Regions from separate parts of the Homo sapiens genome. Here regions 2, 3, 4, 5, 6 and 7 are each linked to region 1. Evidence: fine-mapped expression QTL. A gene starts in region 1. Each other region holds a variant in brackets. All regions are shown on one strand. Distances are between the middles of the regions.

What was found. PIP is the estimated chance that this variant, and not a neighbour inherited with it, causes the effect.
Region 2: its variant is fine-mapped to the expression of PLCG2 in subcutaneous fat (GTEx, PIP above 0.99). The same link has a PIP of 0.9 or more in skeletal muscle.
Region 3: its variant is fine-mapped to the expression of PLCG2 in whole blood (INTERVAL, PIP above 0.99). The same link has a PIP of 0.9 or more in monocytes.
Region 4: its variant is fine-mapped to the expression of PLCG2 in whole blood (INTERVAL, PIP above 0.99).
Region 5: its variant is fine-mapped to the expression of PLCG2 in whole blood (TOPMed, PIP above 0.99). The same link has a PIP of 0.9 or more in pancreas.
Region 6: its variant is fine-mapped to the expression of PLCG2 in whole blood (INTERVAL, PIP above 0.99).
Region 7: its variant is fine-mapped to the expression of PLCG2 in whole blood (TOPMed, PIP above 0.99).

What each region holds. Positions count from the first base shown.
Region 1 is chr16:81,777,514-81,781,578 of GRCh38, reverse strand. It overlaps PLCG2 (phospholipase C gamma 2), which reads right to left and starts at 2,288. Exons shown (of 33, transcript NM_002661.5): 1 at 2,155-2,288. RefSeq lists silencers at 1,983-2,062, 2,073-2,172, 2,203-2,472, 2,501-2,795.
Region 2 is chr16:81,874,013-81,878,077 of GRCh38, reverse strand. All of the region lies in intron 7 of PLCG2 (phospholipase C gamma 2), which reads right to left. Among named protein-coding and RNA genes, the nearest start is that of PLCG2, 97 kb to the right of the region's middle. The variant T/C (reference allele first, on the strand shown) is at 1,846.
Region 3 is chr16:81,935,925-81,939,989 of GRCh38, reverse strand. It overlaps PLCG2 (phospholipase C gamma 2), which reads right to left. Exons shown (of 33, transcript NM_002661.5): 27 at 3,612-3,821; 28 at 2,087-2,232; 29 at 1,075-1,189; 30 at 1-98. Among named protein-coding and RNA genes, the nearest start is that of SDR42E1, 74 kb to the left of the region's middle. The variant A/G (reference allele first, on the strand shown) is at 2,192.
Region 4 is chr16:81,956,572-81,960,636 of GRCh38, reverse strand. PLCG2 (phospholipase C gamma 2) reads right to left here. Exons shown (of 33, transcript NM_002661.5): 32 at 3,758-3,942; 33 at 1-2,681. The coding sequence ends at 2,639. Among named protein-coding and RNA genes, the nearest start is that of SDR42E1, 53 kb to the left of the region's middle. The variant G/C (reference allele first, on the strand shown) is at 2,378.
Region 5 is chr16:81,927,835-81,931,899 of GRCh38, reverse strand. PLCG2 (phospholipase C gamma 2) reads right to left here. Exons shown (of 33, transcript NM_002661.5): 24 at 3,276-3,342; 25 at 246-403. Among named protein-coding and RNA genes, the nearest start is that of SDR42E1, 82 kb to the left of the region's middle. The variant A/G (reference allele first, on the strand shown) is at 1,501.
Region 6 is chr16:81,737,026-81,741,090 of GRCh38, reverse strand. It overlaps LOC105369213 (a long non-coding RNA gene), which reads right to left and starts at 2,050. Exons shown (of 4, transcript NR_189584.1): 1 at 1,655-2,050; 2 at 712-831. It also overlaps a transcript of PLCG2 not described here. RefSeq lists enhancers at 2,155-2,204, 1,766-2,548, 2,775-2,834, 3,739-4,065. The variant C/T (reference allele first, on the strand shown) is at 2,160.
Region 7 is chr16:81,909,545-81,913,609 of GRCh38, reverse strand. It overlaps PLCG2 (phospholipase C gamma 2), which reads right to left. Exons shown (of 33, transcript NM_002661.5): 18 at 2,890-3,090; 19 at 894-1,013. Among named protein-coding and RNA genes, the nearest start is that of SDR42E1, 100 kb to the left of the region's middle. RefSeq lists an enhancer at 299-798. The variant C/G (reference allele first, on the strand shown) is at 2,037.

The sequences.
Region 1 (4,065 bases):
GCTCCTTTAGGGCAACCTGTGAGCAGCTACTAAAAAGCAAAACACGCATATGCTTCGATCCTGCAATTGTACATGTAAAGAAAGACATGCACAAAGATGCAATATGTACGACAGAAAATCACGGAAGCAATAGTTGCAATAGAAATACAAAAAAAGAAAAAAAAACAGAAAACAACTGCTCATCAATGTGGGGGGCCTCCTGGATAAATAATGGTGCACATGCACTGAAGAACGCTCAGTAGCCATCAGAAAGAATGAGGATGATAGATAAGCAATTTGATCTGGAAAGATTTGTGAGGTCAATAAAAAAATAGCTTCAGACAATAGTTGCAACTGTATGAGTATAATACAATTCCCTTTTTATAAAGGTGATCTTCTGGTAAATCCAGGAGAGTGGTTACTATTTATCGGAGGCTGGGAGAGGGTAGAGGATACAACTTGACTTTATTTATATTAACTGATGATGTAACGGGCAAATTTTTCTCTTTGTGTTCTTGCTGTTTTCTAAATTAAGAAGTGTTTGTGTGTGTTTGTTTGTTTGTTTGTTTGTCTTGAGATGGAGTCTCTCTTGTCACCCAGGCTGGAGTGCAGTGGCATGATCTGGGTTCACTGCAACCTCCACCTCCTGGGTTCAAGTGATTCTCCTGCCTCAGCCTCCTGGGTAGCTGGGATTACAGGCGGCCACCACCACGCCCAGGTAATTTTTGTAGTTTTAGTAGAGATGGGGTTTCACCATGTTGGTGAGGCTGGTCTGGAACGCTTGACCTCAAGTGATCAGCCCAGCTCGGCCTCCCAAAGTGCTGGGATTACAGGTGTGAGCCACCGTGCCTGACCAAGAAATGTTTTCAAAAGTTTTCTCACCAGCAGCTTTTCATTGACTCTACCCAATGAGTGCAAAAGGGCTATTCATGGGGTCTGTGCTTTTCCACTTCCAGAGGAACTGCCCATACTCCAGTCGCTGGTGGGGGAAGGCAGCTGCATCATTAGGTGACTTAAACATCAGTGAGGCTCACAATGACGATTGTCCCTGAGCTGGTATACACGTGACTGCACACACACCTTTGCAAGAGAAACTGCTTGAGGCTGGCATAGACTTCAAAATTCTGTAAAACTTCCCCGCAGAACTGTAGTCAAGGACGAGGGCCCATGCCCCAGAGAATGCCCTTGAACCAGAGAGTCAGGAACTGCCCAAGGACTCTCCATGGATGCGCCCCGATTCTCAGCGAACCTCGTGGAACAGCAATAAGCCCCAATTCTCGACACAGCCCTGGAAAATTGGGTGGCTCCAGTATCCAGAGGGGGAAACAGACTCAAAAAGGTTCTTCAACTTGCCCAGGGTCCCACTGATGGAACTGAAATTCAAATTAAGTTCCGACGGGCAAGGCCACCTGTTTCCCTCGCGCCATGTCACCCCTTTACCACCCCGCCCCCCATAGTTTCTCACCCTAGTTCAAGATTAGGGTACCAAGAGAGCCCCGCCCCACCGTCCTGCTGGAATCCAGGAGCTCCCCGTCCAAACGGGGCACGTCTTTAACCTGAACTCTTGCGCTGTGCGGGTAATGCCCTCTTTGGGATTCCAAAACACAACAAAACACAACACGCACAGACACACGCATAATTACGCAGACAGCTGCGGAGCGGGCATCGCGAGTGTCCTGCAAGCTCTCCAAAAGTCTCCGGGAAGGACTGCGCCTCCCGCGGTATCGCTCCCACCCGCCACCCGCAACCACCGAAGTGAGACAGGGAAGTGTGGCTCCGAGCGTCCGCGAGCTCTGGGCACAAGGGCCGTCAAGAGAGACGGCGCCACCCCACGCAGAGCCGCTCGAAAAGAGGAGTTTTGAACGCCAGCCCCCACACGACCCCTGACCTTCCTCCCGGTCCCCATTCAAAGCTGGGGCCGCCCCACCGCACGGACCGGAGAGGTGGCGCCGGCCCGGGGTGAGGAAGTGGCCAGCGGCTGGGCCAGGATCCCTGCCGTCACCAAACGGACCCCGGGCACGGCGGGCCGGGGTCCCCGAGGGTGCGCCCCGTCCCTGCCCGCTCCGGCTGAGCCAGGACGCAGACCCCCTCGGACGCAGCGCCCTGGGAGCCGGTCCCCGCGGGGCGCAGGTCCCTGGGCGCCCTGCCTGCCTCGCTCCCGGCCGGGCAGCTCACCTGGCCGTGCCGCCCGGGCACAGCTGCCCGCCTGCCCCGGGTTTGGGCTCCGGGGTCCCGCGCGCGCAGCCCGCGTCCCGACTCGGGTCACTCAGCGCCGCTCACGCCCTCCGCCGCCGGCGCTCGCTACTTCTGCTTCGGCCGCGGCGCCGCGCCACGTGATCCTCGGGGGCCGCCCCCCGCACCGCCCAGCCTCGCCCCGCCTCGCCCCGCCCCAGGCGCGCCCAGCCGGGTCCGCCTCTCGGAGCGCACCCCGAGTGCAGCGTCCCCGCGCCCTCCCCGCCATGGAGCGGCCCAGGCCTGGAGCCCCGCCTCTGCGTGCCAAAGAAGAAACTGAGGCAACCCGAGGGGAGGCTACCTGCCCGAGGCCACTTGGCCAGGTGCAAAGGGAATTCCCCAATATCATGGCATTCCTGGAGAGCCGGCCGCAGTCCAGGTGTTTGCCGTATACTTAACACACTCCCGGCCGGGCGCCCGGGCTCACGCCTGTCATCCCAGCTCTTTGGGAAGCCTAGACGGGAGGATCGTCTGAGCTCGAGAGTTCGAGACAGCAATGAGCTAGGATGGGTGTGGCCGAGAGACACTCCGTCTCAAAAATAAATAAATAAAAATTAAAAATAAATATACTCTTCACAATTACCCGCCAGGAATTGCCAATTCATGGCCCTAATTTGAAGCCCTCGTTGAGGCTGCGCTGGAGTCAGACCAACCCTTACTGCTACCTTAGGCAGACCACTTAAAAACCGACAGCCTCAGTTTCCCCATCTGTAAAACGTGATCAACATAGTGCCAGCCCCAAAGGGAGTCAGGAGCAAAGAACCCCAGACAATTGATGTCCCGTTTTCCTGATCTCATGGGAAGAAGCTAATATGTTCTTTAAGAAATTTATTTTTCCGTTCGTGTGTTGCATGAAGCTATCTGATTCAAACCCTTCCTATGCTCTTTGATGGAGGTATCTTTGTTGTGACTAGAGGCAGTTTCAGGGGCACCTAGACAGCTGTCAGGCACTTGAATTTCACTTCCAAGTTGCTTGAGTTATAGCTTCTGTTTTCTAAGAGGCAGGGTCTCACTCTGTCACCCAGGCTGGAGTGCAGTGGTGCCATCATAGCTCACCACATCCTCGAACTCCGGGACTCAAGCGATCCTCCTGCTTCTGCCTCCTGAAGAGCTGGGACTATAGAGGCACACCACACTTGGCTAATTTTCTCTTTTTTCGACATGAGGTCTCACTATGTGTCCCAGGCTGTTCTTGAACTCCTGACCTCAAGCAATCCTCCTGCCTCTACCTCCCAAAGCACTGGGATCACAGGCATGTGCCACTGGTCTGTTATAGCGTTTTTTTTGTGTGTGTGTGTTTTTGGTTTTTTTTGTTTTTTTTTTTGTTTTTTTTTTGTTTTTTTTTTTTTTTGAGACAAAGTCTTGCTCTCTTGCCCAGGCTGGAGTGCAGTGGCACGATCTCGGCTCACTGCAACCTCCACCTCCCAGGTTTAAGCGATTCTCCTGCCTCAGCCTCCTGAGTAGCTGGGATTATAGGTGTATGCCATCATGCTTGGCTAATTTTTTGTATTTTTACTAGAGACGCGGTTTCACTATGTTGGCCAGATTGGTCTCAAACTCCTGACCTCAAGTGATCCACCCACCTTGGCCTCCCAAAGTGCTGGGATTACAGGCATGAGCCACTGCACCCGGCCTGTTATAGCGTTTTTTAATTGAGGAATATCACTCTCACTGTCAATGTTGTATCCCAAGCCATAGGACTCGTTTGTGACTTCACAAGATCTGTGGATTCATTTCTTTCAGCACTCCCAACTGGCGTGTATAGCTGTGCTCATCACCACAGATCACTTAACACATCAATTTTTTAAAGAGATCTTGGAAGGACTCATTATGACATCAACCACTTGAAGTCAT
Region 2 (4,065 bases), 96 kb before region 1:
CCCGGGAGGCAGAGCTTGCAGTGAGCCGAGATGGCGCCACTACACTCCAGCCTGGGTGACAGAGCGAGACTCCCTCTCAAAAAAAAAAAAAAAAAAAAAAAAAATTAAAAAAAAAAGAGGGAGATTTGGAGACAGAGAAGCACACAGAGAAAAGGGGTCCATGTGATGATGGAGGCAGAGACTGGCACAATGACATCTACAAGCCAAGGAGCGATGCAATGACATCTACAAGCCAAGGAGCGATGCAATGACATCTACAAGCCAAGGAGCGATGCAATGACATCTACAAGCCAAGGAGCGATGCAATGACATCTACACGCCAAGAAGCGATGACGCCTACATGCCGAGGAGTGATGGTGTCTGCACACCAAAGAGCAATGCCATCTACACACCGAGGAACACTTGTAGGACTGCTGGCAGCCACCAGCAGCCAGGCGGTGTCCACACTCCGAGGAATGCTTGAAGCATTGCTGGCAGCCACTAGAAGCCATGAAAGATGTCTGGAACACATCCTTCCCTGGAGCCTTCCGAGGGGTGTGGCCCTGCCAACACCTGGATTTTGGACTTTTAACCTCCAGTACAGTGAGGGAATAAACTTCTGTGTTTTGTTGTTTTGTTTGTTTGAGACGGAGTCTCGCTGTGTCGCCCAGGCTGGAGTGCAGTGGCGCAATCTCGGCTCACTGTAAGTTCCGCCTCCAGGTTCACGCCATTCTCCTGCCTCAGCCTCCCAAGTAGCTGGGACTACAGGCACCCGCCACTATGCCCAGCTAATTTTTTTTGTATTTTTAGTAGAGACAGGGTTTCACCGTGTCAGCCAGGATGGTCTCGATCTCCTGACCTCGCGATCCGCCCGCCTTGGCCTCCCAAAGTGCTGGGATTACAGGCGTGAGCCACCGTGCCCGACACTTCTGTTATTTTTAAGCCACGAGTTGCAGTACTTGCCACAGCGGCCCCAGGAAATGAACATGGGCTCCATGAGCTGGGGCAAGACGGTGACAGTCTCAGTCACTCCTCCTGCTGATCCCATCAGGTAGTAAAATAAGCCCCATTTCAGAAACAAGAAACAGGCCCAGGGAGGCAAGGACTTTTCTCCTAACAAGTCCAAGGGCCAGAATTTCAACCCAGGCCCACCTTGGTAAATCTCTAGCATCCCACACTACACGTACATATGTACACACAATAAATGAGATTCCAGCAATCACAGAATATTCTAGATGCTACGGGTGCACCGTGGAGGCAGCAGTTAATTTATGTTCGGCATTACCATGGAGGGTTATGTGGTCAGATTCTACCTAACCAAGGGACAGGGGTGGCACTGGGCCTTATGTCACTCTGGGCAACATCCCAGGACCTTCCCACCCCAGCAAAGGGCCAGTGAGGTCAGGAGAAACAGCTGTATTGTTAACCACTGTGCCTCTTGGGTCACGCACACATTTACTGGATGAGTGACTAAAATAATAGATAAACTAATTTCTTCTGGTAGCTAAAAGGCTACAGGGAAATGTCATCTCTGAGTCGGGCCCCAGGAGAAGTTACCAGCTGGACAAGAGAAGGGGCCATGCCAGAGGCGGGGGTCACAGAAGCAGGGGCCAGGGCACTAAGAAAGGGAGGGAAAGGAATGGAGTTTTCCCACGTGGCTGAAGGCACACGCCCTTTCACAACCGAAGCTGGTCTTACGCACTCAGTGGTACTTAGGCTGTAGAAACCATTTGGTTCTGGAAGGCCAAGGGTAAAATCTCATCAATAGAAAAGCTAGGCCAGGCACAGTGGCTCATGTCTATAATCCCAGCACTATGGGAGGCCAAGGCGGGTGGATCACTTGAGCCCAGGAGTTCAAGCCTAGCC[T/C]GGGTAACATGGTGAAACTGTCTCTACAAAAAATACAAAAATTAGCCTGCATGGTGGCACACGCCTGTGGTCCCAGGTACTCCGGAGGCTGAGGTGGGAGAATCATCTGAGCCAGGGAGTTCGAGGCTGCAGTGAGCCATGATTGTACCACTGCACCCCAGCCTCGGTGACAAAGTGAGACCCTGTCTCAAAAACAAAAAAAAAAAAAAAAAAAAAGAAAGAAAAAGAAAAGCTAACCAGAGATTCTATCTAACTTCTCCACTGTGGACTCTCCTCTTGCCAGCCACTGACAATAAGAATAAACTGCAAGATCTCTGAGCTCCTCCACAAACATCGTCACAGAACGCTCATCACTCACTTCCCCCATGCTCACACCCATGTAAAATCCGGCAGAATAATCCTTCAATGCCTTACTGGATCATAGGAACAACCAGAGATACGTTAGCAGCCTTCTCAATTTTCTTTTTGATTTTTTGCAAGTGCTTTCTATTTTTATGTAAGAATGCTGTAACCACAGGGGACTTCACAGGTTTGATCAGGAGGTAGCAGGGTAGCAGTCACGTAGCCAGGTATTAAATTACAGTATTGGCAGATGACCTGATACGCTGCTTGATGTCTGCTGCAAAGTGTGAGAAAAGGGACTTGGGTGAGGGCAGTGACAAGGTGATAATGGCTGAAGTCAGCTGATGATACATGGGGGTCTGTTACGCTATTCTCTCTACTTCTATATGCTTTACATTTTCTTTAATACAAAGGATTCAAAAATTAAGAAGTATTCCATGGCTATGCGTCAAAGTTGGGCAGAAAATCAAATCCTAGCTCTGCAGCTTACTACCCTGCAGTAAACAGGCCTTCAGCAAAGTAACCTCTCTGGACCTCAGTTTCTTAATCCCTAAAATGGCAATAACAACAGTAGCTCTTGCACAGGCCTCTAGGGGGGAATTAAATGTATACAAAACACATAGAGCAGGTTGGGCATGATGGCTCACACCTGTAATCCCAGCACCTTGGGAGGCCAAGGCGGGAGGATCACCTGAGGTCAGGAGTTCGAGACTAGCCTGGCCAACACGGTGAAACCCCGTTTCAATTAAAAATACAAAAATTAGCCAGGCGTGATGGTGCATGCCTGTAATCCCAGCTACTCAGAAGGCTGAGGCAGGAGAATCGCTTGAACCCGGAAGGAAGAGGTTGCAGTGAATCAAGATCGTGCCATTGCACTCCAGCCTGGGCAACAGAGAAAGACTCTGTCTCAAATAAAAAAAAAAAAAAAAAAAAAAAAAAAAACACATAGGATAGTGCCTAGCAAATAGTCCACCTGAGAAAATGTTGGCTATCATCTTTGTTAATGATACTGTTATTACAGCCTAGTTAGAGGTATATCCCCTCACCAGGGAGACACAAACGTGAGATTACATTTCTTATCCTCCTGCTGCTGCCAAACTTTTGGAAACTCTGAAGCTCGAGAGGTGGAACGTAGGCAGGTGGTTAGACACAAAGAGGAACTAGCAAGCTCACGATGGAAACCATTTGGCTGCTGATAAGCATGAACCCACTCCCTGGATTTAGTTCTGGGGATTATAAGTCACCATAAATAGCTCTGTCTCCTGCAGGAGCCTGAGAAATCCAGCTAGGCCCTCATTCCCCCCAAATCACAAAACAGGTACTTTTCTCTGCCCTGTGCTTCCAGCCAGGAACAGGAAGTAAACAATTTGCTAACAGGTTAGGGGATGGGCATTTACCTACACAACAGCAGTGAGGTTCTTAGAGCTGGCCAGAAGCCATCTACATAGCTTGGGACTTTGTTATTCAAATCTGTCACTAAATTAAATTTTTAAAATGCAGTGACCAAACTGGAGAGTTATACCCTCAAACAGTGGAGATGAGGGTTGCCAAAGCAAAACTTCTTTGGGGTCAGGTAAGCAACATAAATGAGCAGACAGAGCTGTATGGGGCTGGGTCAATACAGAGAAAGTGGACCGTTCCATGGCGAGATGTGACCCTATTTATAGCCAGATCTCGATTTTTTTCCTAAGGGAAGCCAAATATCTAGATTTTAATATATAATATAATCTCTCAAGTTTTAAATGTAGGCAATTAATTTTTAACATATTTAAACCATTAGATCAAGTACAACCAGGGGCAGGCTCAATGTGGCATTCTGGCCACCAGGGGTCAACCTTTGGTATCGGCAGAATCTTTGCCATACAAAGTTCCACACGG
Region 3 (4,065 bases), 160 kb before region 1:
ATAAACCACAAAGCGCAGAAATGCCAGGTTTGGGTCATAAATTTCAAATGTCACCTTCTCCTGTGTTGGAGCCCAGATAGGGCTGAGGCCATTATCATCTGGAAGGAGATCAAAGCTCATGAGAGGCCACATTGGAGCTGCCCCCTTCTGGTAAGACAATCTCCGCATCCTTCAGCTGTGAATCCCCTTAGCAACCATGTAAATAAATATGCATCTATGCCAAGATCTAAGAAAATCTGAATAATTATCTTCACTCCCCCACCCCACCTTGAGCAATCCTGGAAGCTGCTGTTGCAGGCTGGTCCCTTGGTGAGCAGAGGAAGGAGACCACCTCCCATCTCCCCGCCCCAGGATCAGGGACAAGGGAACGGGGGAGGTGTTTGTTTGCAGAGCAGGAAGGTGGATTTTGGAAAAGACAAAAGGGGAGGAGAGCCTGGGAGCCACATCCACCAGCAGGGGGTTCTACAGCTGGCAGGGGAGAGCCCAGCCTCACAGAGCAGGCAAGCAGCAATCCTGCCACTCTCCATAAATGCCAGTTTATTTGGTCAGCATCTGAGTTGTTCATTGGGCTACTTTTTACCAGGGGCAAGGATCCTGTGCTTTAGAAGGCCCACCAATCACGGTTCCCTCCTGGCTTTTCCTGGAAGAGCAAGCATTCCTCTTGTCCCTCCTGCCCTCTAGGGGCTAAGATCTCCCAGGTTAGGCTGATCCTCTGGGTCAGGTCAGCCACGTAGGTTCACCCCCTCTCTCTGTGTCTCTGCCTCTTGGCCTTTGACTCAGGAGATTAATCAGATTGGGCTGTTGCACAGAGAGGACCAACCTAGTGTCAGGGCCTCACCTACGATTCCGGACTTGAGTTACAGGCAGGCAAACAGCACTGGGGAAAGTCTAAGGATTTCAGAAAGTGGCCCTTTGTATGTATCCCCTCCTCAAGCTGAACCATGTGGGCAAGAGGGAGGAAAGAAAACCCTGGGACAACTAAAGAGCATTGCAAAATCCCCCACGAAGAGCACTCCCACAAAGGATTCACTGGCCGGACGTTTAAAAGCAGAGGGGCCAAGGTGACTGACTTACTCACAACCGTCGTCTTGAACTTGTTGTTGTCATACTCGGCTCCACAGATCTCCACTTCTACAAAGGGACAGGCAATACTTCGTCCAAGTTTGGGGAGATGGCGAGCACCGAGAACCTGGGACACCAAAGGGAAGCATTGGAACCCCCCTGGGGTCCTGAACAGGCAGCCTAGCGTGGATTGCAGCTGGGTTCTAGAGTGACACTGGATGAGTTCAATGCCAGCCCTAATTTTCCTAGATTCACTGGAAAAGCCGGAGCAACCTTCTGCAGTGGATGAAGGTGGACTGTGGTAGATCCCACAGTTCCTCAGCATCAGCCTGGGTCTCGGCCCCATATGCCACCTGACTCAACAGGTAAAACTCACCTGAGCTCATGAATGCACACATCCATGCCCAAGCAGGTGCCTCTGATCAAGGCAGAGCTTAATCACTGGATTTCCACACCCCTAGGAAAGGCTGAGGAACAGTGTGGCATTCTTTTTATAACTGCTGTTTATTTAAAGGCCTGTGTTTACGTATGCTTCTTCCCCCTACCACCCGCCCGCCCTTAACCTTAGGAGAAATGCAATTCATTTCTCTACTTTTCAAAAATTCTTACAAAGCAACAACACTTTCTCTGAAAGTCAGATGAATTTTAAAAAGCCCTGGAATTGGACAAAGTAAGGGAAAAAACTTCTCCATTAAGACCAAATGGCTGTTTCCCATGTTTTCTTTCTCTTTCCGGCCAGAGGCTGACCTCACCAGGACCCCAGAAAGATAGGGTCATACCTCACCCCCACAGAGGACAAGGGGAAGTGGGTTTGAGGAGGTTTCCCCTCTCTTCCCTCTTCTCCCAGAACGACCCCGGAGTGTACTGTAAGAAAGAAAGATCCTCAAACACTGCCTGAATGGGGATCGTTTAAACAAGACAACCAGCCTCCCTAGACATGGGTTCCCTGCTCTCAAGACAGCATCGGCCCAGCCCCCAGGGAGGGCGGCTGGCTCCCCTGGCAGGAAGGGAGGGCTGGCTTTACCTTGACTGTCAGCGTCATCAGGATCTTCCTCTGGGACTCGGGTGGCATCGGGTCATATTTCTCTGTCCTCATGCTCTCAGGCTGCAGAACGTAGCCCGTGCGCCC[A/G]TTGAGAGAAAACAATGCGTGATTCATCTGCATGTACTTATCTGGGAAGGAAAGTGAACGCCTGCTGTAAGTCAGGCATGAGCACGCTGGCCCCCTAGGCCAGGAGTTTCTAGGTGGGGAATGAATTTCACCTTTTCCCCAAATTAATGTGAGGCAGCTGTTCAAATAGGTATCTCACTCAAAGAAAATATAGGGTTTCTAGACAGCAAACTCCCAGACTGGGGAACACCTTTCCAAGTATGTCACCAAATCCCGAATCATAAAAGAAAAGATTCAAACTTGCTAAAAGTGTCTATGTAGCAATAAATTGCATAGGCAATTTTAATTCAAATGACAAATATGTGAATATAAATTTTTAACCTCTTAGTTCTGATACATCTATGCTATAAATACCTACTGCAGTAGATACATCAGGTAAGAAGCACAAATAGTTCCCAGAAAAGAAAATGCCACTGCTCCCTAAATGAGGGAAAAACTGGTTAATGTCCCTTACAAGAAGAAGCTCTAATGGACGACGATGTATCAGTTTTCACCTCTCAGTTGTGCAAACGGCAAAAAGTTCAACAAAACTCAGCGAAGTCATACCAAAAGAGCGTACTCCAACCTCCACCTATTTGCATCCCCGCCCACGATCTCTATGGAGGGCAGTTTGGCAGTGTGGCTTAGCTCAGGCACGTCTTCAGTGGTTTTCCTCAGGGCAAAGTTGATCAAAATGCAAGCGCTGTTTGACCCACCCTGCCTTTCTGAGAATTCTGTCCCATAGACATATTCCTACATCTGTGGAATGGCGCTCACGTCAGGGTACAGAAGGCAGTGCTGTCTATGACAGCAAATAATGGGGAATACCTACATGTGCCTCCACGGGGACTTATTAAATAAATGATTGTTCCATTCTGTGGAATCCGATGTGGCTATAAAAAGAATGTAAAGGAGGCTACTGATGAATAGATCCCTCGAAAGAGGTCTTAAATAACAACAACAAAAGCACAAAGCCCCGTGATTTATGCGATCACTTTGTGTCCAGAAGTTTGTGTATGTTAGTTATGCCAGCATGTAAATGTCTCTGGAAGAAAGTCTGAGCAGAAAGCCCTCACACAGCAACAGGCCTGGAGAAGAGAACTCCAAAGATGCTTTAATTACATGAACTAATGCATTTTCTTTTTCTAAGCCAGACTAACTCAGCCTCTGTCACTTACTTACAATCACGAAGCCTGCGTAAGCCAAGCAGCCTTCGGTCCTCTCATCCCTCCATTCAGCTGCTGGACCTCATACTAACCATTACTCTGCTGAACCGTGCAGTCCCTCGGACAAATCACTCATTCTTGGACACCACATGGTATCGCTGACCCAAGGTGACTCGGCCTGGAGTGACTGCAACCGCCACCTTGCAGGGACGGGACTACCTTCAGTCGGCCTTTACCTGCCGTCTGGAAATTGAGTGCCACCATCTGAGAACCGCACAGCCAGAGGCGGAAGGGGTCGTAGTTTGAAGAGTCAACTCTTTGTCCCTTTGGGTAGACGCGGGTCAGGCCCTTTTGATTGTACTTCAGGAGGTCGACGGGCTTCTGTCTGATGATGCTGTCAGCCTTCGTCTCCACAAAGGAGCGGATTTCTCGGAAGTCAGGATTTTCTGCACACAGAGAAAAAGGTCATCAGTACTTCTGTGTCTCATCTGTGCATTTTCTTAATGTTTGCTGCAATGGCTGGATGCTCAGATTATAAAAGGAAACCAGGAATCTCCCTCTTTGACATTCAAGGGGTTCTGATGATATTGTCCCAATTGGTATCACTGTGGACTCTTGCCCTCTGGGGGTTCCAAGTATTAAAAAGGGGCCTAGTTTTCCCACCACCTTTTAGGCTAGAATTACTGTAAT
Region 4 (4,065 bases), 180 kb before region 1:
GCAAAAAGATTCTGAGATCGAATTTGGAAAACAAGACCCTCTACACCTTTCACTCCTGCACATCTAGTCTCACAGTAGAAAAACTTTATTTAGTTTTTATAACCTAAGTTTCCCAAACTCACAAGGCCTAACCAGCCTCCCCACTTTATTTTTCCTTGTAATAACCAATATTCTAAATAACACACTTAGGAAAATGGTGAACAAAAACAGTGTAATACATATGCAGTGGTGGTTTTGATCTATCAGTGCTGCTTCCATCTTTCAGAATGTGCCTGTTACTAGTCTTCTTGGCCTGGATTGGCTGTGCTTTAACAGTCATGTAGGAAGCATGTCTCAGCTAGATACTGAAGTTATGTAGCATCACATAGACTCTGGGAAGAGCCATCATACCATGTGTGCCTTTCCTGAGAGAATCAGTCCCTAACACCACCAAGAACCAGATTAACGTGTTACTCTGTCAAGGACAGGAGGAAAGAACCGAAGAAAGTACTCTCTCATGGTGGATTCCGGTTGTAGCACCAGGAGAAGGAGACAGTTTTAGGCAGAGGGTTCTTCCCAGCACCATTTATGTCATAATCCCCTGACTTCTCTTTGGCCACGCATGGATTTTACACAGCAGCAGCTGGAGAGAGGCTTAGCTTCTGCTTCCTATGCCGCCATATGTCAGGTTCTTTGATATGGTAGCAAAAAACCCATTTGGGCAGAAAGGGGATGCAGGCCTTAGCACTGTGGCTTTAAAGTAGAATGAAGTGAGGAGCTGAAAGGAGGTAATGACAGCAACACCTGAGCTCTGCTGTGTGGAAGTCCTAACAGAGCTGAGAGGGGTTGGGGGAGATGCCAGGTGCAATAAATAGGTTCTGGTGGCTACCTGGCCAAAGGCTAATGGGGCCCTGGCTACAGAGTGCCTGCAGCACTCATCCCAGTGCCTTTCTCACCTAGCCTTTCTTGAAAGTTGCTTTGAACATCTGCCACTAAGAGGAATGTTCTTTCTTCAGTTGCTGACTGCCAAATAAAATAGCAGCTCCCAGTTGGAGGAGTAACTGGAGTGATAGCACCAGATAACAGCCCTTCCTTGGCCAGACTGCTGTTCCCTGTGTTCCTGGCTTCAAGCGAGGTAAATGGCTTTCTTTTAGGAGCTTGTGGATGGAGATGATTGATGAGACCCACAGCTTTTTGTTTAAACATCCACACCCCCAAATCTTGGCACTGTATTTGGCATGTGGAGGTGATCAGTAAGTTTTTGTAGAGTGAAGGGACCAGAAGGATCTTCTGGTCAGAGCCTGATTTGTTCTGCCCTGCTTTTCAGCAGTACATGCATACTAAGCCCAGCATTTCGGGTAACAAGAGGAGGGTCAGATGGGTTTCTAGGGGCCAGTTCCATCCACATCAAACATCAGGCTTACTGCTGGTTTGTTCTTCCCCACCACAGCCATCGTTTTTCACAGTTACACTCCTTTTCCCATCAGCTGTAAATTCACTCATTGAGAAGTTGTGACTCTACCAACCACCTCCCTTCCCAACCCAGCACTCTCCTCTCCTTTAAAAAGCCATATTACATTATTGGTATGTATTAACAACTTAAGATGCAGAGGTGTAAAGCCCTGGCCAGCCGCACATACTGTCATGAACTAGGTAGATCTGCCCCAAGGGAGATGGCTGCATTTGAAATTTTCTGTAACACCCTAATGCTTAGCCCATTAAAGCTCAGCTTGCTGCTCCAGAAGACTGGGTAACCCAGAGACATTTCGCCATCAACCTAACTTTTGTCTACCTCTTTCAAGCAGCAGTTGACCTCTTGCCTGTGGAGAGCTGTGGACCAAGGGCCATTCCAGCAGCCTCCCAGCCAGTTCAGTAGGGCCATGAGGGACTAGTGGGGCCAGAGCCTCCCAGCAGCTGGCAGAGCCAGGGGCAAGTGAGAACCTGCCCCTGCAGCACGGCTCTGGTCTCTCTGATGGGCTTTTTAAAACAAAGAGGCCCCAAGATTCCTACCCTCCATCCCAGTAACTCTAGTCACAAAACAAGCTGTCACCATTAATTAGAAATTGTCTTAATGAACAGATCCCATCACTCAGCCATTTTCTTGTGGACTGCAGCAGGCAGCCGGTGGTAGTTAAAGTACATTGAACTGAGCAGGCTGCCTGTGGGTAGGGCTTCTCTTTGGGCCCTTATGGAATCATTTGCCTTTGAGTTAAAATCCTTTTCAGAATCTCATGAATAGTTTCTTACATTTCCAGCTCATCCTCCATGGACATCAGTTACCTGGATCATTAGAGGTAGAATCTTCTTGGCCAGAAAAGAAATCCTGTTCACTGCACAGGTCGTGCAACAGAAGGCTTAATTGATCAAGGTTTTCATTGCTTTTATTCAATGAGGTTTG[G/C]AACATGAGAGGCCAAAAATGAGGAGCACATTTTGGGGAATCCTCTATAAAGAATATAAGTTAAGAAAGTTGTCCAAGATGAAAATAATAGGAAATTACCCCAACTCATGCCAGTTGGGTCTTAAGAAATGTCCTTGATGGCAGGCTTGAAGAAAAGATGTCACAGATTAGCGTCTTCCCAGAGTGTGAATAGGGCACGTTCTCCTACATGCAAACACACATGCGCACACACACAATACCCTTACACACATACCCCAGCTTCTATGAGTAAAACTTGCTGTTGCTGACTCTCTTCTCTCTTAACCTGAAATAAAACAGATTTCACCATCAGCAGTGGGCCATGAGAAATGGGCTGCGTGCTGAACTCTGTAACATTTCTCTTTCTGTACATTTGCCAGTCATTCATAGCTGGATGGTATAGGGCTGAGTGTCAGAGAGGCAGACTCCAAGTTCCTGGTAAGACGTTGAGACTCAGAGAGGTTAAATCTCCTCAATGGTAAAACAGAGTAAGAGCTACTCTGCAGGCTGACATGAAGATTCAATGAGAATAATGTGAGTAAGGGAGGCAGCACAGTTTCTCGTTGGTGGCTACTATTAGGATTTTTGTCTGGATGATTCTTTCTTAGAAGATTTAGACATATTATGAAACACTTGGCAACCCCGGCCGCCCCGCACCCCATTACATGCCTGTAGCACAACCACAAGCATCCCTGTTGGGGGATCTTGACCCAGTCTAGAGCCGCTGGACTAGCCCATTCTTGGAAACACAATAAGTACTCCTTAAAAGTCAGTGGTCATCATTTATTTTCGCTATTAAATTGAAGTGTCCTTCTAGAGGAAACAGTTCTACTTAGGGGAAGTGGCAAGCGCCTAAGGTATTACTGTAGGTTAATTTCTAGAACAAAGAGAACTAGAGTCAAGGGTGCCAAAGGATTTTTTGTTTGTTTGTTTGTTTGTTTGTTTGACAGAGTCTCCCTCTGGTGCCCAGGCTGGAGTGCAATGGTGTGATCTCGGCTCACTGCAACCTCTGCCTCCCAGGTTGAAATGATTCTCCTGCCTCAGCCTCCCAAGTAGCTGGGATTACAGGCGCCCACGACCATGCCCAGCTAATTTTTGTATTTTTAGTAGAGACAGGGTTTCTCCATGTTGGGCACGCTGGTCTTGAACTCCTGACCTCAGGTGATCCAACCTCCTCAGCCTCCCAAAGTGCTGGGATTACAGGCATGAGCCACCATGCCTGGCCTGTGAGCCACCATGCCCGGCCAAGGATTTCTGAAGAAAGCAACTCAGAGGGCTTTCCAGAAGCCTGGCCCGTGGTGCCCATCATCACCGTGCCTAGAGACCCCCCAAAAGTTTTTGCAGGTGGAGGGGCTGACCTACCTCTTGTTGCATTTCTCCTGGTACAGCTGGAGCTGGTTCTCATTAACACTGAACTCTTTAACCAGGGCATCCCGGTTGGCATTGCGCAAGTTCTGGTGTGTGTCATACAGAAAGAGCTGGTTGTTCAGTTCTTCTTGCCGCCTCCTCAGCTGGCGACAGGAGGAGTAAAGTTCCTCTTCGCTCTCCTGGAGGATGCAGGGGAGAGAACAACCATGTGGTGACTACACCTTCCAAACCAAAATGTGAACCTGGCATCTCACAAGCATGCCCAAAGGGAGCATGGGGCAGAAGTTTTGCAACTTGGATTA
Region 5 (4,065 bases), 150 kb before region 1:
GGCACTCAGCCTTCTGAAGGTTCGAACCAGACAACCAGACCCACCTTCCCAGGGCACCTCCACTATCCCTGCCTCTCTCTAACAAGAGGTGCTCCAATTGTCTGAATCCACCTGGTCTCCTTCCTGAATTCTGAGTAGGACCTGGGCCTGCTCATCCTGCTGCCTGGACCCACCCACAGTCCCAACTGAGCACCAAAGCCCTCAGAATGCCAGGCCCACCTGCACCCGGGTGAGCAGGTGCCTACCTTGGTGTCAATCTTCCAGGTGATCTCTCGGATGCTCTGAAACCACTCAAAGAGCTCCTCCACCCTGTCTGTGGCAAACTCCACCGGAGGATCGCCCTGCTGCTTGGGCTCCAGGATGAAGACAAAGGACTTCTGGTTTTTTCCCTGAGGGGCTTTCACTTGGGGTAAGAGAATAAGAAATGTCCCAATCAGCCTATTAGAGGGCCACAAAGACCAGACTGCACCCTGCCTGAGCTGTTTCTCTCATGGACCAACCACCACTGCTATGACCACGGTTAGCACTGATGGGGACGTCTACTTTCCATCGGGGTAAGTACACATCACAGATGACTACTCAAGGGATGCAGTAGATTCAGTAGGGTCCTCCGAAAAGATGTGTCAGGTCACCAGTACCTGTGAATGGGACCTTATAGGGTCGTTGCAGATGTACTTAGGTTAAGGATCTCAATATGAGATTATCCTGGATTTAGGGCAATTCCAACATCCAACAAGTATGAGTATCCTTATAAGAGAAAGGAGAGGGACACTTAAGATGCAGGAAAAAAAAACAAACATTAAAATGCATGAGAGAACCTGAAAAAAATACCCTCTTGTCCACTTTAGTTATAGACATGTGTTCGTCTTGATCAAAAGAAACACTGAATATCTTTTTGGTTGACCAATTAGAAAATGCTTTTTACACTCATCATAAATATTTTTTACAAATTACTAAAACAATACATGTTCATTTTAAAAATATTTAAAATATAGCTAAGCAACTTGGCATTTTTACAAAATGTTTACATACAATACATAAAATTTTGTGAACTGTTTCACTTAGCATATTGTGCATAATTTTCTATGTTGTTACATATAATCTTTTACATATAAAGAATAAATAATTTAAATGGCTTTTTTTTTTTTTTTTGAGACAGGGTGGCACTCTGTCACCCAGGCTGAAGTGCAGTGGTGCGATCTTGGCTCCCTGCAGCCTCCACCTTCCAAGTTCATGCGATCCTCCCACCTCAGCCTCCCTAGTAGCTGAGACCACAGGTGCACACCACAAAGCCTGGCTAATTTTTGTATTTTTTGTAGAGAGGGGTTTCGCCATGTTGCCCAGGGCTGGTCTCGAACTCCTGAGCTCAAGCGATCCACTCACCTTGGCCTCCCAAAGTGCTGGGATTACAGGAATGAGCCACCACACCCAGCTAAATGGCTTTAAAAACAGATGCAGACACAAGGGAGAAAGCCATGTGCAGGCAAATGTGGAGACTGA[A/G]GAATGCAGCCATGAGCCAAAAACACCAAAGAGTCACCAGAAACTAGGAGAGAAATGTGGCGTGGGTTCTCCAGACACAGAGAAAGGATCTTACAGAGAAGAAAAGATTATGACAGGGAAACTTATCTGCCAAATAATATTAGTAGCTAAGATTTCTGAGCTCTTATATACCAGGCAATATTCTAAGCAGATTACATGTATTGCATCTTTATTTTATTTTATTTTTTTAATTTTGAGCTCTTGCTACATTATCCAGGCTGGTCTCAAACTCTTGGGGCTCAAGGGATCCACCCACCTCAGCCTCCTGAGTAGCTGAGACTAAAGGCACCCTGCTTTTGCTAGGCCCATTTTGCAGGAGGCAAAACTGAGGCTCATTAAGAGAAAGTCACATGTGGAAAGTCATACAGCTAGTAGTAGTAAAACTGAGGCTCAGTTCAAACCTGACTCCAAGATTTCTACTCAGAACCAATGAGCCATGTGCCTCTGCTCTGCAGATACAGGGATGGGGGAAGATGATACAAAGAGCACCAGAAGTGGATGCAGGGATCCTGCACCCCCCTGCCCAAAGGACCTCAGCACATGTGGTGGTCGGTCACTTAGGACCTTGATTTTCCCATCTGGTAATCGGAGCAAAGAATCCCTCTCCTACCTATCCTGCTGGATCATTGTAAAGGTAAAGAAGCAGGTTATAAATGTGGAAAGCAGGCTGGGCATGGTGGCACATGCCTGTAATCCCAGCACTTTGGGAGGCTAAGGCAGGCAGATCACTTGAGGTCAGCAGTTTGAGACCAGCCTGGCCCACATGGCGAAACCCTAGCTCTACTAAAAATACAAAAATTAGCCAGGCACGGTGGCCCATGCCTGTAGTCCCGGCTACTCAGGAGGCTGAGGCAGGAGAATCACTTGAATCCAGGAGGCAGAGGTTGCAGTGAGCCAAGATCACGCCACTGCACTCCAGCCTGGGTGACACAGCGAGACTCTATCGCGAAAAGAAATAATAATAAATGAATGAATGTGTAAAGCAGAGCATTGGCAATAGAAGCAGGAAGTTCCTGGGGCTGCTGTCACCTGAGTCCTAGGGGAGCATGCCCGTGCCTGCCCAGGGAGGGTCATGGGCTGCCCAGAACAAGGAGGCCCGCTACAGAGTCCCTTCACATGGGAGCTGCACCACACCCACTTCAAAGCAGGCAGGCTCAAGACCCAGGAAACCCAGCACACATCAGACCCTGGCCACCACTGGACAAGCCTAGCCTTGGGGCCACGCCTTCACATCCCGTTGCAGCATGGTCAACGTGGGCGGGCTGGGTTTCCTGGGCCCCAGCCGAGCAACCAGGAAGCAGAGGTTCAAAGAGGAGAAGTGACAGGCCTGTAGTCTCACAGCGACAGAGAGGCAGAGCTGGGTTTAGAACCCAAGACTCCCAACTCCACGCTGCATTTCAGCCAGGCTGACAGCTCAGCTTTCCTTCGCAACGCATGGGAAACACAGATGGATCCTGAAATAATAAGAGTGACGCTGGTAATAATATCCGCTAACCACCATCTAGCACTTATGTACGAGACCTTGTTTTAGCACTTACAGTTTTAGTAGAGATTAATAGCAGACATAGCATCATACTCACTGACCAGCCTGACCTAAATACTCAGCTTCAGCCAGGGAAGGAGCTGGCATTCAAGACAGGACCCTGTGTCAGCCACCTCCCTGTGTAGGGCGGGGCTGAGGTCAGCCCATGGGGGATAGGGGTGGAAATCCAGGCTAAGATGATGTGTGCACGTACCGACGTTATAGGTATTGAGGTCCAATATTCCTCTGCAAAGAGACCCTAAGGGATTGTCTTCAATAATCTGTGAAGAAACAAGACATAACTCACGTTAGTTGTAACGGGAATAATAAAAAGAAAACCCGTTTCCAAAGCACACCGTTTAGCAGAGATACTGCCTGTGGAACTGTTTAAAATGCATTTTCATTACCAGATACGTCCATGGGGAGAGAGCTAAATAATGAAGCATGGAGCTGATAGGGACCTGGCGGGGAGAGGGTGCCAGGAGGTTCGGAGTTTCATTTTCCAATCCGTAAAAACGTGCCTTGTGAATTCTAGAACAGGTTTCATAATGCTTCCTCAGATCTGGTTTCCAAACACATCCTAGACTATTTATCTGACCTTATTAGAAAATGAGACTATTTTGCCTACTAAAGCCCGGCTCAAGAACCTTCTGTGGCTCCCCATGTCCTGTGGAAGCAACACCCATGCTCTATGACCTGGCTTTTAAGACTTTCAGAGCCCCCATCACCCTTTCCAGCTCTGCCTCCCATTGCACCCTTGAACCATCCCAGGGTCTGGCTGAGATGAAGAATATCCTGGGCTTAGGAGAGGTGGCAGAACCAGGCATCCACTCCTTGCCTGCACCACCCCAAACCCCACCCCCTGCACCAGGTAAATGCTGATGTACAGGTAAGGGCAACTCAGTACAGAGGAAGCAAGGGCTTCCAGTCTCTGCCTCAGCCCAAGCACACGGAACACAACCACATTCCCACTGCCACACCTTTGCTTAGACTGTACCTCCCAC
Region 6 (4,065 bases), 40 kb after region 1:
TCAAAACAAAGGCCAAGAGCGCTGGTCTATGGAGGAAGGGGACTGCCTTGGGGGAACCCCTCTTGCTCTATGGGGCACAGAGGGTGCATGGATTAGAACTCTATTCAAACTTGCTTAAGCAAACTGGGAGATTCACTGTCTCACATCTGTGGGAATTCCAGGGAGGATTCTGCCTGGCAGGCAAGGTGAATCCAGGGACTCAAGAGAACCCTCAATGGGTTGGTTTCATTCTTTTTAAGCCCCATGTGCTAGGGATGCTGACCACAGCCCCAGGCCTCTGCACCCACAGTGGGAAGAGGAAGCTTTGGTTGTGTTTTGGTTTGGTTTCGGTTTTTTTTTTTTTTTTTTTTTTTTTTTTTTTTTTTTGAGATGGAGTCTGGCTCTGTTGCCTAAGCTGGAGTGCACTGGCACTATCTCAACTCAGTGCAACCTATGCCTCCCAAGTTCTCCTGCCTCAGCCTCCTGGGTAGCTGGGATTGCAGGCACATACCACCACACCCGGCTAATTTTTTGTACTTTTATTAGAGATGGGGTTTCACCCAGGCTGGTCTCAAACTCCCGACTTCAGGCGATCTGCCTGCTTGGGACTCCAAAGTGCTGGGATTACAGGTGTGAGCCACTGCACCTGGCCAGGGAAAAGGAAGCTTTACTCCCAGAGCCTCTGCACGCCAGCCCCAGGGATGTGCTCATTTGCTGGGGTCACGTGCTCACCCTTGACCCTGTGACTGGTCGAAGCACTGGGATGCAGTCATTGGCTGTGCCTACGTCACATACTCTGTAGGGGAGGGCAGGGTTGGTACCTGTGGTCGACAGCCCCACTGAACCAGCTTCCTAAGGAAGACAGTAAATGTCACTAGAAGAAAAGTAAACCTTACTACCTGCGTACCTGCCACACACTGGTTTTCTTCTTTTCTTTTTGTTTCTTTTCTTTCTTTTTTTTTTTTTTTTTTTTGGAGACAGAGTCTTGCTTTGTTACCCAGGCTGGTATGCACTGGCGCTGTCTCAGCTCACTGCAACCCCCACCTCCCAGGCTCAAGTGATTCTCCTGCCTCAGCCTCCCGAGTAACTGTGATTGCAGGCATGGGCCACCACACACAGCTAATTTTTGTACTTTTAGTAGAGACAGGGTTTCACTATCTTGGCCAGGCTGGTTTCAAATTCCTGACCTCAAGTGATCCACCTGCCTTGGCCTCCCAAAGCGCTGGGATTACAGGCATGTGCCACTGTGCCCGGCCCCACACACTGTTCTGAGCACTTACTAATTCATTTCATTCTTCTAACAACCCTACGGAGTAGGTGTCATTTCATCATGCCCATTTCATGGATTAAGAATGGAGGCACAGGGTGTTTAAGTACCTTGCCCAAGGTCACAGTTGGTGAGAGGCGGAGCCAGGATTCAGCCCCAGGCCGTCTGGCTCCAAGTCCACGTGCTTAACCACCATGCCACATTGTCTCTCCTCATCCCACAAAAGCAACAATCTGTCCTTTTAGGGGCAGCCGCAGGAGAAGGGGTCCCAGCCCTTCCCTGGAGGAGTACGGGGGAGCAGCTGGACCTCAGGTGACCCATCCTCAGCACAAAGCCTGTCTTCAGTGCCCTCTGTCTGGAAAATACTGGGGGCTCCCAGAGAATGTACCAGAAATAGAGGCCACTTACCAGGCTCCACTCGAGCGGAAAATGCCGTGGCCTGAAGACTCAGATACTCACCAACCTTGCCACTGCCACAAGCGCAAGTTGGCTGTGTGACTGCAGACCCGCCACTGTTGCTCTCTGGGCCTATTTCTTCCGCTTGCACGTAAGCAGATAGAGGCTTAATCCCCTGTGCCCAAGGGCCCTGGGGTCTCGCTGGGGAGAAGCTAGGGGTGAACTAATACCCCAGGCTGTGGTCGACCACCAGCTTCTCTGGTCTCAACAGCCGCAGGTGCTGGGAGAACAAAAATCCCCCCTGCCCCCACCCAGACACTGAGTACCAGTGGCTCTTGGGCCCCTGGAGGGAGAAGGCCCGACGGCGGCCCCAGCTTCCTCCTGCACAGCACTCTCTAGTTCACGCTTATCACTCCTGGGCCTGCCTGTCCCACTCCCGCAAGACGGCACCCCTCCCCCTGCCAGGCTGGGGCAAGTTCCGCCCCTGCCACAACTTCCCCATCTGCCGCCTTAGCCC[C/T]CAGCCTGGTGTGAGTTCTTGAAACAGGTGTCAAAAACTCACAAGGGCACTGGCTAGTGCCAGCTGGAGTGATTTTGTCCCTCAGGAAGGGTTTCCAGATTTAGGAAATAAAAATGCAGTCTTTGGACATAATTATACAAAAACATTATGTGCTTATCTGAAATTCAAATTTTCAAAGTTAAATTCAAATTTAACTATTTTATTTGGCAATCCTGCACTCAGGGGACATTGCCCCTATCTGGAGACAGTTTTTGATTATCCCAGCTCAGGGATGCTACTGGCATCTAGGAGGTCAAGGCCAGGGAAGCTGTTCAGCACCCTACAGTGCACGGACGGTCCCCACCAAGTGATCTGGCCCCTAATGGCAATTATGCTGAGGGTACGAAACCTCCCCGCGGTGGCCTCCCCAGCCCTAACACGCATGCTTGCCTGCCATCTCAGGAACTTGACAGAGGAAACCGTGGTGATCCTTGCGTGAAAGTCAGGGAAACTGAGGCACGGGCGAACTGTCTTATTCAAGGTCACACAGTGCAGTCTTTCCTTCTCTAATAAACTCGTCGGTTCTTCTAAACACAGAGGCACGCAAGGCCAGCCAGGAAATACAGGTGGGGAGAGGGGTCAGACAAGAGCCTTCAGGGTCCCCAGACCCCCGGGAGTGGGGTCCTTTGGGGCTGGGTAAGCCAGCCCTGGAGAGGAAGAGGAACCATGCTGACAGGCGTCACTACCCGACTGTTGTCAATTGTGCCACCAGGAGGCAGCAGAGACTGGGAAATAATTCTGCACACCTTGCCCTCCCCCGCGCTGCAAGGAACTCAATTCCTGGCTAGCCCCACCTCTCCCCCAGCCCAGAATCTGATGCAGCTGCTCTAGGACAGGCGCCAGCCATCCGCATTGTTTAAAACAGCTCTCAGGTGATTCTATTGTGCAGAGAGGATTTGCGAAATGCTGGACTTATGCCTTGGTTTTTTCTTTCTTTTCTTTTTTATGTAACAGAGTCTCACTCTGTCGCCCAGACTGGAGTGCAGTGACGCGATCTCGGCTCACCGCAACCTCTGCCTCCTGGGTTCAAGCAATTCTTGTGCCTCAGCCTCCTGAGTAGCTGGGATTACAGGTGCCCACCACTACACCTGGCTAATTTTTTGTATTTTTAGTAGAGACGGGGTTTCGCCATGTTGGCCAAGCTGGTCTCCAACTCCTGACCTCAAAGTGATCCACCCGCTTTGGCCTCCCAAAGTGCTGGGATTACAGGCATGAGCCACCGTGCCATCCAGGCTTTGGTTTTCATCACTGATTGCACAGCAGCACCACCAGGACACTTTAAAAACCCACCGCTGTGGATTTTTAAAGTCTATCCACAGGTGCATGGATAAAGAAATGTGGTCTAGACAGACAACAGAATATTAGTCAACTGTAAAAGAAATAAAACTCTGACACATGGCCAGGCGCGGTGGCTCATGCCTGTAATCCCAGCACTTTGGGAGGCCAACGCAGGCGGATCACCTGAAGTCAGGAGTTGGAGACCAACCTGGCCAACATGGTGAAACCCCGTCTCTAGTAAAAATACAAAAATTAGCTGGGCGTCGTGGTGCACACCTGTAATTCCAGCTACTCAGGAGGCTGAGGCAGGAGAATCACTTGAACCTGGGAGGCGGAGGTTGTAGTGAGCCGAGATTGCGCCACTGCACTCCCGTGGGCAACAGAGCAAGACTCCATCTCAAAGAAACAAACAAACAAAAAACAAAACAAAAAAAATTGACACACGGTACAATATGGATAAACCTCAGAGATATTGTGCTAAGTGAAGTAAACCAGACACAGAAGGACAAATACTGTAGTTTCTGCAAACAGGAGACTCCTAGAGTAGTCGGATTCATAGAGGCAGAAAGCAGGACGGTGGCTGCCAGGG
Region 7 (4,065 bases), 130 kb before region 1:
TCAGTGTACAAAAGACGCCCACAGGCCTCTGGCTGGAGATTTGGCCCCCAGGCCTCTGGCTAGAGACTCTGGAGTGAAGAGCTTAGGCTTTGGAGACGGACAGGCCTGCATCTGAACCTCAAACTCAGTTGACTATGAGGCTGTGTGACTCCAGGCAGGTCACTTAACCTCTCTGGTCCTGTTTCCTCCCTTGCAATAACTAGACCTACCTCTCACAGGCTGTAGCAAAGGATTCAATCAGATGAGGCCTTGAAGGCAGTCCAGTGTCTAGAACACGGTTAGGAACTCAACATATAGCAGACTGTTACCACCGTAAGAACATGCAGGGAAACCCTGGGGCTGGGGAGATGGAGGGACAGTAGGCTACACGGAGTCTGAGTCACTCCTCGGCTCCTTGTCATTAGTGGAAGTGGGAGAATCTGGCGTTTTGGGGTAACATTAGAGAACCACAGGCCTAGAGGTGGTTGGGCAGCAGCTGCAGTTGGGAGGAAACCAGATCTATATCATCACAGGCCTGGGCTGCCTGGGCTGTCTGGGCTCGAATCCCAGCCCCACCACTTAGTGGCTGCATGCTTCAGCAAGTTACTTAATCTTGCTGTGCCTCAGTTTCCTCCTCTGAGAAACACGGATCATGGTCATGTCAACCCCACAGAGTTACTGGAAGCCAAAGTGAGTTACTACAGAACATCCTGCCCTGGAGAACGCAGACTGTGCCTGGCACGCAGGAGCGCACATTCTCGCAGCGGCTTTTGCTGTGGTGGTTGTTGTTGTCGCTGATGCTGGGGGGGCAGGGCACTGCAGGTGAGCCTCCACCTGAAGTTCCCCCTTGTCTCTCCGCATCTGTCCTTGCCAAGCCCCTCTGTAGAGCATGTGCCTCCCACCCTCGCACCCACCTGAAGGTGATGGCATAGGAGTCGCTCCCCTCTCGCTTCCGGATCAGGAAGGCCCCGTCCCGGGGAATCCTCATCAGCATGTCCTCTGCCTCTCCGCGGCTCAGGCTGTCATAGTACCACCTGCGGCACAGGGCCAGGGAAAACGACCAGGTGAGCGGTCTCCAGGCTGTCAGTGGGCCACCCGCAGAGGACAAGATAATGGCACCAGTGACACCTGGAACCTGGCCCTGGAAACGACCATGGAAATCACACAGTGGGCTTCCCCAGACAAAGGCACCTCAGCAAAGAGAATTTGTGAAAAGAATAGTGGAAGACCCCAGGGGTCTGTTTCAAGCCCAAAATAATACATTGGGCCGAGCACAGTGGTTCACACCTGAAATCCCAGCACTTTGGGAGGCTGAGGCAGGAGGATCACTTGGGGTCAGGAGTTTGAGACCAGCCTGGCCAACACAATGAGACCCCCATCTCTATAAAAAATAAAATAGCCTGGGCACAGTGGCTCACGCCTGTAATCCCAGCACTTTGGGAGGCCAAGGCAGGTGGATCGCGAGAAGCCAGGAGTTCAAGACCAGCCTGACCAACATGGCGAAACTCTGTCTCTACTAAAAATACAAAAATTGGGCCAGGCGTGGTGGCTCACGCCTGTAATCCCAGCACTTTGGGAGGTTGAGGCGGGTGGATCATGAGGTCAGGAGATCGAGATCATCCTGGCTAACACGGTGAAACCCTGTCTCTACTAAAAATACAAAAAATTAGCCAGGCATGGTGGCAGGCGCCTGTAGTCCCAGCTACTCAGGAGGCTGAGGCAGGAGAATCACTTGAACCCAGGAGGCAAAGGTTGCAGTGAGCCGAGATCATGCCACTGCACTCTAGCCTAGGCAACAGAATGTGACTCTGTCCCAAAAAAAAAAAAAAAAAAAAAAAAAGGAAATACAAAAATTAGCCAGGCCCAGTGGCGTGCGCCTATAATACCAGCTACTCAGGAGGCTGAGGCACAAGAATCTCTTGAACCTGGGAGGCAGAGGTTGCAGTGAGCTGAGATCGTGCCATTGCACTCCAGCCTGGGAGACAGAGCGAGACCCGGTCTCAAAATTAATTAATTAATTAATTAATTAATTAGCTGGGCACAGTGGCACACACCTG[C/G]AGTCCCAGATAGGAGGCTGAGGTGGGAGGATCACTTGAGCCCAGGAGCTCGAGGCTGCTGCGAGACGTGATTGTTCCACTGCACTCCAGCCTGGGCAACAGAGCAACACCTTGTCTCAAAAAATTGATTCATCTTCATCCACCCAAGCAGCCCAAACCTGAAAAGCCAGGCTCCCAGGGAGGCACAGTTATTGCCACGTGTCTCAGAAAATCGAAGACGGAGATCACAGCAGGAGTTTCACAAGGTTTTGGGTTGTTTTCGGGTTATTTCTTAAGATAAGAAATAGCAAGTTTTAAGAGGCAATCCATAGGAAAATGTGACAGAAAAAGTGAAAAAAAAAGTTGCTATAAGTAATACGGCCTCCTCGGAAATGGACATTTTTGCAGCTTTCTGCCTAAAAATTGTTTTTTCTTTATTCCCAGAATTTGTTGACCCTTCGCAAGACCTACCTTGATACTCATTTCACTAGATAAAAAAAATCAGCGGGAGACTCTTATAATCATTGTTTCCTTGTTCATTTTCAGAACAAACAGGAAGGAGCTCTGAAAGGTAAGAGAATATCCCCAGGCCAAAATGACCCTCTGAAAATCAAAGCCCAAAGTCTCGGGGCTATGAAGACAAAGTAGAAGAAAGGGAAAAGAGAAAAGGGGAGGAAAGAAAGAAAAGAGAAAAGGACACAGGTCATGGTGCCAGGAATTTGGAAACTGGCCACCTCGGCAATTTTGAGATGCCGGTGGGCTGGGGAGAGGGTGTCCTGGGGGACTGGCCCGGCTGAACCACCAGGCCAGCTTCTCTGCCTGGTGGAGCTAACCCGACCACCGCCTGCCTCCTGCTCCACCCTCAGACACGTACGGCTTGGACTCGTGGGGGTTGGGGTTGGGCACAGGGTCCGTGAGCCGCAGCTCGAACTCGGCGCAGCGCAGGTGCGTCTCGCGGTAGTGCTGGATGAGGGCATAGATGCTGCTGAAGGTGAGGTTGTCAGTCAAGTAGTATTTCAGGGTCCCGCCCTCCATGGTGGAGCGGATCCGGCAGTGCTGGACCCGGCCTGACCGCCTGCGGGGAGAGGACGCCATCAGTGCTGGGAGAACGCAGGCCAGGCCATTGCGGCAGCCAGGGCCTCAGAGGCGGGGACATTACATGTGGCCACACAACCTTCCCTCTGCTCCTAGAACAGACACAGGAGGCTGGGCGCAGTGGCTCATGCCTGTAATCCCAGCACTTTGGGAGGCCGAGACGGGTGGATCACCTGAGATTAGGAGTTCCAGACCAGCCTGGCCAATACAGTGAAATCTCGTCTCTACTAAAAATACAAAAATTAGCTGGGCATGGTGGTGCATGCCTGTAATCCCAGCTACTTGGGAGGCTGAGGCAAGAGAATCACTTGTACCTGGGAGACGAAGGTTGCAGTGAGCCGAGATCACGCCACTGCACTCCAGCCTGGGCGACAGAGCGAGACTCCATCTCAACAACAACAACAACAAAACCAGATGCAGGGCCTTAGTATAGGCTAGACCCTCAGCCTGGATTCCAGAACATTCTACCTACTTCCCCCACCCCACCCCACCCCATCCCCCTTTTATATATATAACTGCTTCTCTAGAGCCAGGATGCCTGGATTCAAATCCCAGCTCTGCCACATATGAACCAAGTGTCCTGGAGCAGGTCACCCGTGCTGTCTGAGCCACACTGTATTACTACCCCAGCGGTCTGACAGGAATGATAACAGTATCCACCTCAAAGAGGCATCCTGAAGAGTAAACGAGACCACACACACAAGGTGTCTCGAATACTGCCCAGCACATGGTAAGCATCATTTAGGTGTCCAGGATTATTTGCGTGTTATTAGTATTCTAATTTTCAGCCAGGTGCAATGGCTTACAGCTGTAATCCTAGCACTTCAGGAGGCCGAAGCCAGAGGATTGCTTGAGCTGAGTTCAAAACCAGCCTGGGCAACGTAGTGAGACTCCAGCTCTACAAAAAATTTAAAAGTTATTCAGGTGTCGTGGCATGTGCCTGTAGTCCCAGCTA